Linked DNA regions of Homo sapiens. The protein of the gene in region 2 interacts with the protein of the main gene of each other region in a pairwise test. Each region holds a gene or a part of one and is shown on either strand. Other genes may lie near its edges.

The links.
Region 1: the proteins of RAB6A (region 2) and SNRNP35 interact in binary tests that used the Homo sapiens proteins (3 or more experiments, as listed by UniProt).

Annotation. Positions count from the first base shown.
Region 1 is NC_000012.12:123,463,384-123,468,109, forward strand, and holds the end of SNRNP35 (U11/U12 small nuclear ribonucleoprotein 35 kDa protein), read left to right. Parts: intron 1-2,154; coding exon of another isoform or gene 2,155-2,157; coding exon 2,158-2,898; 3' UTR 2,899-3,553; downstream 3,554-4,726.
Region 2 is NC_000011.10:73,718,896-73,723,972, reverse strand, and holds part of RAB6A (ras-related protein Rab-6A), read left to right. Parts: intron 1-3,073; coding exon 3,074-3,127; intron 3,128-5,077. UniProt on the Homo sapiens protein: The small GTPases Rab are key regulators of intracellular membrane trafficking, from the formation of transport vesicles to their fusion with membranes.

The sequences.
Region 1 (4,726 bases), on a different chromosome or scaffold from region 2:
CTTTCTTTTTTTGAGACAGACTCTCGCTCTGTCACCCAGGCTGGAGTGCGGTGATGCGACCTCGGCTCACTGCAACCTCCGCCTCCTGGGTTCAAGCAATTCTCCTGCCTCAACCTCCCGAGTAGCTGCGACTACAGGCGTGTGCAACTGTGCCCAGCTGATTTTTGTATTTTTAGTAGAGACGGGGTTTCACCATATTGGCCAGACTGGTCTCAAACTCCTTGGCCAGACTGGTCTTGAACTCCTGACCTCGTGATCTGCCCACCTTGGCCTCCCAAAGTGCTGAGATTACAGGCGTGAGCTACCGCGCTCGCCAGTTTTGTTTTGTTTTTTTTCTTAACTTTTGGGACTTCTTCCAGGAAAGACCTGGTTTGGTTTTTATTTTTTATTTTTTTTTTTGAGACAGAGCCTCGCTTTGTTGCCCAGGCTGGAGTGCAGTGGTGTAATCTCGGCTCACTGCAACCTCGCCTCCTGGGTTCAAGCCACTCTCCTGCCTCAACCTCCTGAGTAGCTGGGATTAAGGCGCCCACCTACCTCGCCTGGCTAATTTTTTTTTTTTTTTTTTTGGAGACGGAATTTTGCTCTTATTGCTCAGGCTGGAGTGCAATGGCGTGGTCTCGGCTCACCGCAACCTCCACCAACCTAGTTCAAGTGATTCTCCTGCCTCAGCCTCTTGAGTACCTGGGATTACAGGCGCCTACAACCACGCCCCGCTAATTTTGTATTTTTAGTTGAGATGGGGTTTCTCTATGTTGGTCAGGCTGGTCTCGAACTCCTGACCTCAGGTGATCCACCTGCCTCAGCCTCCTAAAGTGCTGGGATTATAGGCGTTAGTCACTGCACCCAGCCAGCCAAGGTTTTTTTTTTTTTTTTTGAGATGGAGTCTTGCTCTGTCGCCCAGGCTGGAGTGCAGTGGCGCGAACTCTGCTCACTGCAAGCTCCGCCTCCCGGGTTCAAGTCATTCTCCTGCCTCAGCCTCCTGAGTAGCTGGGACTACAGGCGCCCGCCATCATGCCCGGCTAATTTTTTTTGTATTTTTTAGTAGAGAGAGCGTTTCACCGTGTTAGCCAGGATGGTCTCGATCTCCTGATCTCATGATCCGCCCGCCTCGGCCTCCCAAAGTGCTGGGATTACAGGCGTGAGCCACCGCGTCTGGCCTCAGCCAAGGTTTTTAAGTAACATATTTCAGCATTGGCTCTACAGCGTTGCAGGTTGGTCACATAAGCATTAGCTGGGTCTGAAATATTAGTAAGCATTTTATTATTCCAGCAAAGATTCACATGAATTAACTATGTATCAGAAGGCATGACAACTGCAGTGTGCTTGCTGGACAAAAAATTACCATTGCAGTAAATTCTCATGCTCCCAGTCTAAACGGATTATCAGCTAGGGATCTGAGAAGAAATCCCATGTTCCTTTTGAGACAAATAACCCGCTCCCGCTGCTGGGTCACTGTAGCCTTAGCTTTGTTGTCTGTTTACTACAGAATGGTGCATCCAAATCCCTGTTTTCTCTTGTAGTTTTAAAAAAGTCTATATCTTTTAATGATGCATAGTAAAAAAATTTCCACACGAATGATGTGATATCTAGAATTTGTTTCAGAATTATCTGGGGGCAGATTATTCTGGCCACATGTGCATGGTGGTTCTAGTTGAGCCGGGTGAGAAGTTTGTGGAGGGTTATTATATGATTCTCTATGTTGGTATTTGATATTCTTGGTAGTAGAGTTTTTAAATTGCCATTTTCCACCAGCAGTTCCTGGGCTAGTTTTCCTATGATCATTTTAAAGGTTCTGAAAGAGAAGTCTGGTTTTGATCCACGTTGCCACATTGTAATGTGTTCATAGTTGGTAAGTGCCCTTCCGTGGCTGAGCCAGATGCTGCATATATGGGTGAAACCCGAGCACGCTGCCCTCTGCTTCCTGAGAGGGCATTTGTAGGAGTGGGTAAGGGCTTCTCTGGAGCACAACTGCCTGGCTTTGGTGCTGTCTCCCCCACTTACTAGCAGGGAGGACTTAGCCTCTGTGGGTGTTCCCTTCCTTTCCTGTTTTTAAGAAGAGGTGAATGATAGTATCCTTTTCATGGCATTGTTGTAAGGGTTGAATGAGTGGCTCAGAGTAGAGGCTCCATCCACGCTTGCTCTTATCATTCATAGAACATGAACGATTGGATGCCCATCGCCAAGGAGTATGATCCACTCAAAGCGGGCAGCATTGATGGCACCGATGAAGACCCACACGACCGCGCGGTCTGGAGGGCAATGCTGGCACGATATGTCCCCAACAAAGGTGTCATAGGAGATCCCCTCCTCACCCTGTTTGTGGCCAGACTAAACTTGCAGACCAAGGAGGACAAATTAAAGGAAGTCTTTTCCCGCTATGGTGACATCCGGCGGCTTCGGCTGGTCAGGGACTTGGTCACAGGTTTTTCAAAGGGCTACGCCTTCATCGAATACAAGGAGGAGCGTGCCGTGATCAAAGCTTACCGAGATGCTGATGGCCTGGTTATTGACCAGCATGAGATATTTGTGGACTACGAGCTGGAAAGGACTCTCAAAGGGTGGATCCCTCGGCGACTTGGAGGCGGTCTTGGGGGAAAAAAGGAGTCTGGGCAACTGAGATTTGGGGGACGGGACCGGCCTTTTCGAAAACCTATTAACTTGCCAGTTGTTAAAAACGACCTCTATAGAGAGGGAAAACGGGAAAGGCGGGAGCGATCTCGATCCCGAGAAAGACACTGGGACTCGAGGACAAGGGATCGAGACCATGACAGGGGCCGGGAGAAGAGATGGCAAGAAAGAGAGCCGACCAGGGTGTGGCCCGACAATGACTGGGAGAGAGAGAGGGACTTCAGAGATGACAGGATCAAGGGGAGGGAGAAGAAGGAAAGAGGCAAGTAGAGGCCCAACAGCAGAACCCCAAAGTGAAGTTACAGTGGAAATGAGTGGAGGGGGATTGTCTTTCAACGCAGCGTGAGTCTAATGGTTGAATAAAACTTACTGATGATCATGGGGTTTGGAATAGTTTTCTTTCCAATCTGGAACTTCGGTTCAAGCTGATAGGAATTTATCATCTTCCTCACATAGTTCTAAGGACATGTTATTTAACAGGATCAAGAAGCAATTTTGTAGTTACTGGCATCTGTACAGAAGGGCATTTTCTTTTCTTTTCTTTTTTTTTTTTTTGAGACAGAGTCTCACTCTGTTGCCAGGGCTGGAGTGCAGTGGTAAAATCTTGGCTCACTGTAACCTCTGCCTCCTGGGTTCAAGTGATTCTCCTGCCTCAGCCTCCCCAGTAGTTGGGATTACAGGCATGTGCCACCATGCCCGACTAATTTTTGTATTTTTAGTGGAGATGGGGTTTCACCATGTTGGTCAGGCTGTTTTCGAACTCCTGACCTCAGATGATCCACCTGCCTTGGCCTCCCAAAGTGCTGGGATTACAGGTGTGAGCCACTACTCCTGGCCTGGTCTCCAACTCTTGACCTCAAATGAGCCACCTGCCTTAGCCTCCCAAAGTGCTGGGATTACAGGCATAAGCCACTGCGCCCAGCCAGAAGGGCATTTGTAAGGAGCTAGTATTCAGATTTAATTTGGCAGTAGGAATTTGATTTTCTTCCATCTATTTTAAATGATCATCTTGAGTACGTGGCAAAAAGAGGTTATGACCTAATCACACTCCTCTGAGTCCTTAGAGGAAGAACACTAATCTGGTCAGAATAAATTGTATCTTTTCTATCTTTATATCCATAGCCCAAGAGTTTGCTGAATTGAAATAAAAATGGGATAGAAAAGTGAATTCAAGGAGAATGTCCAGAGCCCTAATACCAGAAGGCAGTCTGCACAGCCAGGTCAGCATTCTTGAACAAATGCACTTCCATTCTCACTCAAAATGCCGACTGCCTTTCTTCTTTTTCTGACTGACATTTAAAATTAAAAACCAAAGTTGCTGGGCTGTGATCTATGGCAGCCTTCCAGCCCTTTGAAAAGATAAAGTTAGACAGAAGTGGTGGTGAAATGAAAATGAAGAATAAGGAGTGGTCAGGATCTATGAAAGAATTACAGCTAGTTCTGATGGATTGATTTTTCCTTTCTCTCTTATCTAGTCTCTGGGGTGCTCGAGAGCTAGATCTGCTGACCTTAACTTCTGAGGACTTTGAGCAAGTACCATACTGTTCGGATGATTTTCAAAAAAGTGACATTTAGCATTTTGATAAATGGCCGTCTTTGAAAGTTCATATTCTGAAAATTCAAGATGTTTCATGCAAAATAAATGATTTAGTACCATTGCTAGGTTTTCGCATAGGAGTATGAATCTCTCATGATATTATACAGGGAACTGGACCAACCTGCTGTGGCTTAAAATTGCTGTCAGCTGTTAGAACAGTTTTAGAAAAATAGGCCCTTTCCTTTGTGAATTTCCAGTACAGAATTTTATTATTTCCCAAGTCTCAGAAAACAACCTTGCAGGAAACCTTTTTGATTTCACTCACATTTAATTTACAAAGTGTTCCCTTATTATGGCACCAGAAGGGTGTTGTGGGCTAGGGTTGGTAGATTGTCTAGAAAACAAGACTGCCTGCATTAGGGAAGCCTTGTGAGATACCATCAGGACAAAAAGCAAAGCCAGTTGCAGTGTTTGTGTAGTTGTCAACTCTGAGCATCAGAACAGGGAGAGATTGAAAACATGCACACTTGGCTGGGCACGGTGCTCACGGCTGTGATCCCA
Region 2 (5,077 bases):
ATTTATGTAACTAAAAAAAATCTTATATATTGAAATGCAGGGTACTGGTTTACAGTATATAGATATGTGGGTAGGAGTGGTGAGAGTCATTTTCTTAGCCTTTATTGAGTATCTTATCTAAAAATATTGACATCGTACCATAATATCTTTTATTGTCCTTTTCCTGGTTTTTTTCTCTCATACTACTCTCTAATATACTATTTTACTTAATTAGCTTATTGTTTGTCTTAGCAGACTGTAACCTTTGCAAGGGCATAGATTCTTGTCTGCTTTTTATTCTTTTACCACAGGATTCTCAGCTGCTAATGATGGTGCCTAGTAGGCAATCAATAAATATTTCTTTCGGCCAGGCGCAGTGGCTCATGGCTGTAATCCCAGCACTTTGGGAGGCCGAGGTGGGCAGATCACTTGAGGTCAGGAGTTCGAGACCAGCCTGGCCAACATATAGTGAAACCCCGTCTCTACTAAAAAATACAAAAATTAACTGAGTGTGGTGGTGCACACCTGTAGTCTCAGCTGCTTGGGAAGCTGAGGCAGGACAATTGCTTGAACCTAGGAGGCGGAGGTTGCAGTGAGCCAAGATCACCCCACTGCACTCCAGCCTGGGTGACAGAGCAAGACTCTGTCTCTCAAAATAAATAAATAAAATAAAATAAAATAAGTAAAATAAATCTTTCTTTTTTTCCCCCCCAGTATTTGGAAGGAATAGAGTTCAATAAATATTCCTGATGAATGTGGACAGGTGTACATGATTTTTAAATGTGTTCCGTCCAATTTGGGTAGAGACTAACTGCATGTTTGTTCATCACTCTAGTACCTTACACAGTACTTGCAAGTACGTGCTTAATAAATATTTGATGAGCAAGCTGGGCACATTGGCTCATGCCTATAATCCTGGCACTTTGGGAGGCCGAGGTCGGGGGGAATCACTTGAGGCCAGGAGTTCGAGACCAGCCTGTCCAACATGACAAAACCCCATCTCTACTAAAAATACAAAAAGTAGCTGGGCTTGGTGGTGAATGCCTGTAATCCCAGCTACTTGAGAGGCTGAGGCACTAAAATTGCTTGAACCCAGGAGGCAGAAATTGCGGTGAGCCGAGATCACGCCACTGCACTCCAGCCTGGGCGACTGAGCGAGACTCTGTCTCTAAATAAATAAATAAATAAATAATCGATGAACGAATAAATGAGAACTAAATGGGGCAATGTGTATAAATCGGCACTTAGTAGATAATCAATTTATGTAATTTACTGTAGCTTTCATTCTTGAATATATGTAAAAACATGTAAAGACTTATCAACATTGCATTGATTTTTCATATAAAGATATTATCTTTAGGCAGGGTGTAGTGGCTCATGCCTATAGTCCCAGCGTGTTGGAAGGCCAAGTGGGGAAGATCTCTTGAACCTAGGGGTTCCAGACTAGCCTGGACAACATGGCAAAACCCTGTCTCTATAAAAAAATACAGAAATTAGTGGGGCATGGTGGCATGCACCTGTAGTCCCAGCTACTCGAGAGGATTGCTTGAGCCAGGAGGTTGAGGCTGCACTGAGACAAAATCACACCCCTATATACCAGCTTGGGCAAGAGTGTGAGACTGTCTCAAAAAAAAAAAAAAAAAAAAAAAATATATATATATATATATATATATATATATATATATATACACACACACATATATATTTGAATTTTATTTACGGAAGCATCAGAAAAGAATAAAATACTTAGGAACAAATTTAACAAACAGCATAAGACTATACAAAACACTGCTGGGAGAAATTAAAGGAGACACATGTATTAGTTTGTTCTCATGCTGCTAATAAAGAGATAACCCAAGACTGGGTAATTTATAAAGGAAAGAGGTTTAATAGACTCAAGTTCCACATGGCTGGGGAGGCCTCAGGAAACTTACAATCATGGCAGAAGGGGAAGCAAACATGTCCTTCTTCACATGGCAGCAACAAGGAGAAGCACAGAGCAAAGAGAGGGGAAATCCTTTTATAAAACCATCAGATCTCGTGAGAACTCAACTATGACACACACAAAATTCTATTTTTCTGCTAACAGAAATAAAATCCCCAACTGATGGACCACTTTTCTGATCTAGTTTTTGATTGTTTTTTAGGAACTTAAAATTCTTAGTGACTCATATTTTAAAATGCACAGACTCAGTTTCTGTTTTAAGGAATATGGCACAAAGATATTTAGGGAAAAAGTATGTATGTACACGCACATATATACATAGTATATGTGCACACAAACATTAATGAGGTGGTAAAACTTCTAAAATAGAGTCCATATCAACATCCTCTTTCTGGAGTCTGTCTTTCTTCCATTCTTTTTATTTATCTCCCCTAATTAATACTGGACTGTTTTTTAACTTGTATACTTTTTTTCCTTTCTTTTTTGTAGTCTGCCTTCTTTCTATTCTCTTATTATTTCACCATTTTCTCTTGATAGGGAAAACAGCAGCCAGGCAATAGAACTTTACATTTGTTTTCACCACAGAAGGAAGCTATCATTGTGTGGTACAGAGGAAAACTTGTTTTCCTTACCTAATGACTTTTATTTTATATTGGAAAAATCATGTCTCTTATGGAAAGTTATGATGTTTGTGAGTCTCTGGCTGTCTATGGCATTAGGACAGTTGACAATATATCAACAGTATTTTATAAAACTGCTCTTGGGGCAGATACTTACCATTCTGAGTGGAGAACAATCAGATACTCAAACTAAAGTTCAAATACAAATATTTAAACCAAAGTTGCCATTGTCTTGTTATTTGTAAAATGAGAAAAGTAGGGATGAGAATAAGCTACCTGGCAGGAATGTATAAAGATTAGAGATGATCATGTAAAAGGCTTAAAACAATCTCTGATATGAAGCAAGTGCTGAATACATGAAAATCATTATCACTGGAAATTTTGTTTGTCCTTAATTGTCCTTAATTGACTATGTTGTATTGATTTGTTTATTCATTATTTCTTCCACAATCATGAATCCCATTTGAATCCTAAACTGCTGGCCACCATTAAACTTATTATTTGTTAACTTCTTTGTTTTGTTTTACAGGCAACAATTGGCATTGACTTTTTATCAAAAACTATGTACTTGGAGGATCGAACAGTGAGTAATATTTTCAGTGTGCAATTTTCTGCAACATTCCAGGTTAGAAAACTGCAATCAAAGTTATCAATGATTGTCACCATAAGAAGTACTTAGCAAAGTTACCAAAGATAGTTTACAGTTGTTGAGAAAAACTCTTATTACCGAGTGAGTAGTACTTGGCAGTCATCTTGATTTGGAAAAATGAAAACAAAGAGCTTTACAGAGAATTAAAGGAGAATTTTTATGAAGAAATTAAACCTGCTAAAGACCTTCTAAATGCCACCCTTGAGGCATTCAAAAAGATTTCAATTTGTGAACTTCAAGATTTTTTTTGTCAGGATAGGATGCGTATCAAAGTGACTGACAAAAAAGAAGTTATGTGGGCAGGGTGCGGTGGCTCACACCTGTAATCCCAGCACTTTGGGAGGCTGAGGCAGGTGGATCATCTGAGGTCAGGAGTTTGAGACCAGCTTGGCCAACATGATGAAACCCCATCTCTATTAAAAATACAAAAAATTAGCCAGGCGTGGTGGCGGGCGCCTATAATCCCAGCTACTTGGGAGGCTGAGGCAGGAGAATCGCTTGAATCCAGGATGCAGAGGTTGCAGTGAGCTGAGATTGCGCCATTGCACTCTAGCCTGGGCAACAAGAGCGAAACTCCGTTGCAAAAAAAAAAAAAAAAAGTAATGTGTATTTATTTGTTGGATTTTTGTCTTTCATCCTTTGGAATGTTTTCTTTAAATACAGTGTAAAATCTGTATTCTAGCCCACTACCCCTTGAAGAGATACTTGTCACCTAAACAGTGAATATCTTAAATGCAGTACTTTGAGACCTGCACCCAAAAACATTATTTAATTTCCAGTGTTATTTCTTAGGTGTTTTTTTTTTCCTGAATATTCTCTTTTATGTTTTGATATATAGCATGTCATTTCTTAAAATTTGAAAGCGGCCAGGTGTGGTGGCTCACGCCTGTAATCCCAGCACTTTGGGAGGCCAGGATGGACAGATCACCTGAGGTCAGGAGTTGAAGACCAGCCTGGCCAACATGGCGAAACCCCATCTTTTCTAAAAATACAAAAATTAGCTGGGCGTGGTGGCGGGCGCCTGTAATCCCAGCTACTCGGGAGGCTGAGGCAGGAGAATCGTTTGAACCCGGGAGGCAGAGGTTGCAGTGAGCCGAGATCACACCACTGCACTTCAGCCTGAGCGACAAGAATGAGAGTCTGTCTAAAAAAAAAAAAAAAAATTTGAAAGCTTGGAAACGACTTTATCATGATGCAAGAACTTGATACTTGTTTTCAGGCTTTTCTTCCTGTAATATAGATATGGATAGTACGTAAAGACATTTTTATGTAGGGCTGCAAAAAGATCTTCCTCCTTTTTGTTACATTATACACACACACGCGTGCATGCGTGCGCGCACACACTCGCATGTTCTGGGGAAAATGTATGGGAGAAATACAAGCACGGTAGTTAAAAAACAGGTTTGAAAGTATTCTAGACCCAATAGGAAAGAGACACATTTTAGCTTGAGAGAAGCTTTCAAAGAAGCATTAATTCCTTTACTCTGATAGCTTAGGCTGCTCATTGACATTTACCTTAGGTTTTTTTGTTTTGTTTTGTTTTTTTCTCTATTTAACCATCAACAGTCTACTTTTTGCCACTTGAAAGGCATAGGGATTCAAACAGGTTTTAGGTAGGGAAAAAGGGAAGCCATATTTCTGATTCTGTGAAATTTTTCCCAGTGGCATTTTCCAGTCATTTATGTTTGGAGTATGCAAATTTTTAATATTTCTCCCTTTTGAAAAAGGAGTTTTGTGTTATTTTCATTCCTCACTCCCTGCAACCTCTTGCATGAGTCTTCTTTCTACTTCCTTCCCACCCTCTCCCTTTTACAAAAAACATTGTTTCTTTTTTCTTTTTAGTATTAGTTTGGTTTTTTTTTTTTTATTTATTTTTTCCCATCT